Linked DNA regions of Homo sapiens: region 1 is linked to region 2. The links come from fine-mapping of genetic effects on gene expression. A gene starts in region 2. The other region holds a variant in brackets. All regions are shown on one strand. Distances are from middle to middle. Region 1 has its middle 5.8 kb from the start of GALP. Region 2 holds the start of ZNF582-DT (ZNF582 divergent transcript).

The links.
Region 1: its variant is fine-mapped to the expression of ZNF582-DT in vagina (GTEx, PIP above 0.99).

The regions. Positions count from the first base shown.
Region 1 is chr19:56,168,784-56,171,696 of GRCh38, reverse strand. No RefSeq gene overlaps it. Among named protein-coding and RNA genes, the nearest start is that of GALP, 5.8 kb to the left of the region's middle. The variant A/G (reference allele first, on the strand shown) is at 1,581.
Region 2 is chr19:56,391,982-56,394,894 of GRCh38, reverse strand. ZNF582-DT (ZNF582 divergent transcript) reads right to left here and starts at 1,219. Exons shown (of 2, transcript NR_037160.1): 1 at 842-1,219. ZNF582 (zinc finger protein 582) reads left to right here and starts at 1,361. Exons shown (of 5, transcript NM_001320371.4): 1 at 1,361-1,675.

The DNA.
Region 1 (2,913 bases), 220 kb after region 2:
CAAGACCAGCCTGGCCAACATGGTGAAGCCCCGTCTCTACTAAAAATACAAAAATTAGCTGGGCGTGGTGGTGTGCACCTGTAATCCCAGCTACTTGGGAGGCTGAGGCAGAAGAATCGCTTGAACCCAGGAGGTGGAGATTGCAGTGAGCCGAGATCATGCCACTGCATTCCAGCCTGGGTGACAGAGCGAGACTCCATCTCAAAAGTAAAAATAAAATAAAAACAAAGTTTTGCTTTTACCAGAATGTTATACAAACTGGATCCTACAGTGTGCAGCCTTTTCAGTCTGACTTCTTTTACTTAGTGCATGAGATTCATCCACGCTGTGGTGTGTGTCAACAGTTCACTCCTTTTTAGTGCCATTCCTACAAATTTCTGACGAATCCTTTAGGTTTAAGTCCTAGAAGAAAAGCAACTCAGTCAAAAGGTATAACCATTCTGGGATTCTTTTTTTTTTTTTTTTTTTCAGACGGAGTCTTGCTCTGTTCCCTAGGCTGGAGTACAATGGTACAATCTCAGCTCACTGCAACCTCTGCCTCCCAGGTTCAAGCAATTCTCCTGCCTCAGCCTCCTGAGTAGCTGGGATTACAGGCACCTGCCACCATGCCCAGCTAATTTGTTTGTATTTTAGTAGAGATGGGGTTTCACCATGTTGGCCAGGCTGGTCTTGAACTCCTGACCTCAGGTGATGCACCTGCCTCGGCCTCTCAAAATGCTGGGATTACAGGTGTGAGCCACCACGCCCAGCCTCTGGGATTCTTAGTATACACATCCAGATTGCCTTTCGACAATCACATACCAGTTTTCAGTCCCACCAGCACCACAGAAAGATTCCCATTTTACTTGAGAAAGTTACATTTTTTAGGGAAAGTTCATGGGAGGGGCTGGAAAAGACCTAAGTATTGGTCATGTGCTAGAAACACCTAACTGAATTATTGAACAAGAGGGGTTGCATTCTTAGCTTTTCAAAGAGGCATGGGTGGGTGAGGCTGAAAATCCCACTATTGGAAAGATTCAGATGTGGAAGCGGCCACAGGACGGGAATCTGCAGTCAGGAAGAGAAGTGTCAGCGTTCTCTCCCAGGAGCATTTCTGTGCAGAGTCAAGGTGAGTCAGAGTGAAGGGGAGCCAACGCAATGTCCAAAGCTGAGAGCTGCATGTGAAATACATCATCGATGCTGACGCTGCATTCACAGGAGTGGTTCAAGTGGGGGCACGTGGAGAGGAGAGGGCTGACTCATGGCGGGAGCTAACCAGGGCGGAAGGACATCCTGGAGTTTGGCCCATGACAACGGTGGGGAGGAGATGAAATAAGCAGGTGCCTTCGCCTTCCAAAGGTCCCGGACATCCAGTTACAAAAACAAGAGTGCAGAAGCAGCCAGCAGCCTCCCGTGACCTTGAATCAGAAGGAAAGCGGGAAACAGTGTACACCGGAGGCGCCCAGGTGGGAAATGACATGCTCTCCCATGTTGGTGGGCTGAGTTGTGTCTTTCTGGCTTTTGTTTTTTCTTTCTTCTTCTTCTCTTTTTTTTTTTTTCTTGAGACACAGTTTCACTCTGTTGCCCAGGCTGGGAGTGCA[A/G]TGGCTGGATCTCGGCTCACTGCAACACCTGCCTCCCGAGTTCAAGTAATTCTCCTGCCTCGGCCTCCCGAGTAGCTGGGACTACAGGCACCCACCACCACGCCTGGCTAATTGTGTGTGTGTGTGTGTAATAGAGACAGGGTTTTTCACCATGTTAGCCAGGATGGTCTTGATCTCCTGACCTCATGATCCGTCTGCCTCGGCCTCCCAAAGTGCTGGCATTACAGGCATGAGCCACCGCGCCCAGCCTGAGTTGTATCTTTATGGCTTTTGTTTTTTCTTTTTCTTTTTTTTTTTTCTTTTTTTGAGACACAGTTTCACACTGTCGCCCAGGCTGGGAGTGCAGTGGCTCGATCTCGGCTCACTGCAACCCCCACCTCCCAGGTTCAAGCGATTCCTGTGCCTCAGCCTCCCGAGTAGCTGGGATAACAGGTGTGCACCACCACGCCTGGCTAATTTTTGTATTTTTAGTAGAGACAGGCTTTCACCATGGTGACCATGCTGGTCTCAAACTCCTGACCTCAGGTGATCCGCCAGCCTTGGCCTCCCAAAGTGCTGGGATTACAGGTGTGAGCCACTGTGCCCAGCTGGCTTTTGTTTTTTCTTTTTTTTTTTTTTGAGATGGAGTCTCACTCTTTCTCCTAGGCTGGACTGCAGTGGCACGATCTCAACTCACTGCAAGTTCTGCTTCCCGGGTTCACGCCATTCTCCTGCCTCAGCCTCCTGAGTAGCTGGGACTACTGGTGCCCGCCACGGCGCCCGGCTAATTTTTTTTTGTATTTCTAGTAGAGACGGGGTTTCACCGTGTTAGCCAGGATGGTCTTGATTTCCTGACCTCGTGATCCACCTGCCTCGGCCTCCCAAAGTGCTGGGATTACAGGTGTGAGCCACCGTGCCCAGCTGGCTTTTGTTTTTTCTGTAGGTGCACAGATGATATTAGTTAAATTGAAAAGCAGGTAGAATGTTGACAAGAGTGGGAAAAGAGAGTGCATTCTGCCATTGTCTCTGCCTGGAATGTTCTTGCCAGCTACGTGTGGATGACTTCCTATCCTCTTCTCAGGGACATTTATTATGACCACCATTTAAAAATATGTCTATTTACTTATTTATGTATTTGCTTATTTTTTTCTTAAAATTTTTTTAAATTTACAAATACAAATTGAATCTATTTATGGCATACAGCATAATGTTTTGATCTATGTATACACTGTAAAATTATTAAATTGGGCTAATTAACACATCCACCAGCTCGTAGACATCGTTTTGTACTGAAAGCATTTAAAATCTACTCTCATGGGGTGCAGAGGCTCATACCTGTAATCCCAGTACTTTG
Region 2 (2,913 bases):
TCCTTTTATGGACAAAAAAAAAAAAACAAAACAAAACCGAGATAGGCACGAAGAAACTAATAAATGGCTGAAATGCTATTTGAATCCACATCTGTCTAATTCTAAAAGTGTGCTTTCCACCACATCACCGCACCTACAAGGAAAATGCAGCCTCTACCCTCTCCTGAAGAATGTGTAAAGAGGCAATATGGTGTGTTTTGGAAAAAGCATCTTTGCAGAAAGAAAGCATTAGCTTCAGTCATATTAGCATCCTTATCCAGCAGCAGTAGCATTATTTTACATATCAGTTACTCCTCCCCAACAACTCAATGAATTAGATGCCACAATCATCCTCACTTTCAAATGTGGAGACCGAGGCACATCTCTAAGACTGGAGTTCAGGCATTCTGGCTCCAGTCTTAGAGATGGTTAAGGGTTCACACTCTTAACCATTTATTACACCATAGAGCTCACCAGGTTTGAGGGAAACAGGATCAAATCAAAAGAGTCACTCAGGACTCCAGTCCTCACTCAAGGACAAACTGTTCCACCTCGGACAGGGAGAGTTTCCGCATTCTGAGACCCAGCATAACAGGTCCTGACCGGCATCTGGCACTCGGACTCCCAATCATACTGGATCACACTGGCTCGGGATGTGTAAAGTCCAGGGCTTCTCACATTTGATGACACCAAAGCCGCCTAAAAACAAGAGAGAATTAACAACTACCTACGGCGGTCTGATATTTGCCCAAGAGATGCCGCCCCATAAAACTCCTTTACATCTTTATAACGTTTTTATTTTGCGTTCTCCTTCATAACCCACATTTAACTCACCATAGATGTAATGTTTAAAATTAGTTACCAGATAAACTCTTACGCTTCCAAACTTTAAGGTTCCTTCGAAACCTTCTGGTAAAACTGTTGTTCCACGGAAATGGGAACGTAACGGATGAGGCAATCTTCCACAGCCGCACACAGTTGTGTATCCACCGCTAAACGGTCCCAGTCATACATTCAACGACCCACGCGGAGTCAGAAGCTACCACCACACACTGTCAAAATCACGCACACACAGTGACGGCCCCTTGCCCACTCGGTCACTCGCCCACAATCTCTCGCTAGAGAATCACACGCAGATAGCACACCCAGCACCACAGACCCCAGGAAGCAACCCAGGGACTCGAACACACGAACAGCACTCCTCCGCGCACTGCGCAGGCACGCCTGCGTCCGGCTCACCCTGAAACATCGCGAGATCCGGCTTCAAGGCCGGGCTGCTGCCTTTACGCCTAAAGACTATGTTTCCCGGAAGACACTGCGGCGCCGGCCCTATCATGGCGCAGCATCGGTGTGCTTTGTGCGTCTGCGCCATCTTCCGGCTGCGCACGGCGAATCCACCGGTACCGTGGTGGAAGCGCGCCCTGGGCTGCCGGGGGCGCGGCCGCGGTGGCACTTGGACCCGAGGAGGCGGCAGGTGAGAGGTTCCGGAGCTTTCCAGGCGCTCTGGGGTCCAGCAGGAGCTGGTGCCCGGGCCGGTTGGGTCTCAGGCCTGAGAAGAACGCAGACGTCTCGCCTCATCGTCGCTCTGTGGCTTTACCGGCGTGAGACTACATTTCCCGCCGGCCCTCGCGGCGTGCGCTTTCTGGCGCCCCCTTTCTGCTTCCAGCCTCATAGCCCAGGTGCATGGACCCCTTAGGTGGGTGCGCAGGGGTCTCCGACCCCCTGAAATTGCGGATGTTTTGCATTCACTGTTATGCGTGCCTTTTTTTTTTTTTAATCTGAGAGGAAATCTTGTTTCATGAGGTTCTCAGAGAGTTACAAGACCCCAGAAGACTTAGAACCGCTAGTTTAGAAAAACTTATACTTGGGAACATTTTATATGTTCAAATTCTATGTCCAGCAATGGGGAAACACTTGAGTGGATCACAGGCCATCCTTTGTAAATAGGATATCGTGCAGTTAATACAAATAATGCTTATAAAAGTGGTCATAATAAGGAAAAGCTGCCTATTACATCATATTAAGCAACATTCATAATTATTTCACTTACACGTTACTTAGAACCAAATGTTTGTAATGCAGTAGGCACCTTATATACTCCTTTACAGAGTACTTCTTGTTTAACAGTGAGCTCAAGAACTGGTTAAATGACAACACTGCGAATACTTGGGTGTTTTTTCTTCCAATTTTTTTGTTTTGTTTTGTTTTTAGCCTGTGTGTTAGTGAGTTTGACTTCTTTTTGCTGAATGTTCTCAAAGGATTCAGTAGTTAATATCTTTGCTTGTCAGTTTTTGATAGTCATTTTTGATAGTCACTTGGCATCCCATTATATGGCTGTGCCAAAAATGATTCAACCTCTTGGCTACTTGTGGACTTGCCTACTTACGTACTAATTTTCAGTTCTCCTATTTAGCAAATATTATTGGACATGCAGCTTTGTGCACTGCTGTGTCTCTATGGAAGGACACATTTATGTGCTGATAATGGAGCACTGGGCGTGCTGTGTGTAATTTGTCTCTTACTGTTCCTTCCAACTCTATCCCATTTGTTGATGCAAGGCATGCTCCATGAAGTGGCATGCACAAAGCCTCAGTTTGGGCTGTAGAGCTTTTTGTATATTTGGCGGTTGGGAAAAGAGCCAGGTAGACTTTCAAAGGTGTTATATTTGCTGCAGGAGAGAGTTAAATGGCCTAGTCCTGGAAAGGCTTTATTCTAGGCTGGGGCTATGCAAATGATGCAGGCCTTCTATGCTCCCTGGCTTGAGGGAAGCCCTCCTTGTCCTTGAGGTAACATGTGGGTCTCAGTCACTAGAACAGCCCTCAGCATCCCTGTCTTAGACTTGCATTTGCAGCAAAACAGAACCACTGGATGTTTAGGGGAAATGGGAGGGAAAGGACCACTGGTTCCCCTTTGCCTTGCAGCAGCTAAAGCTGG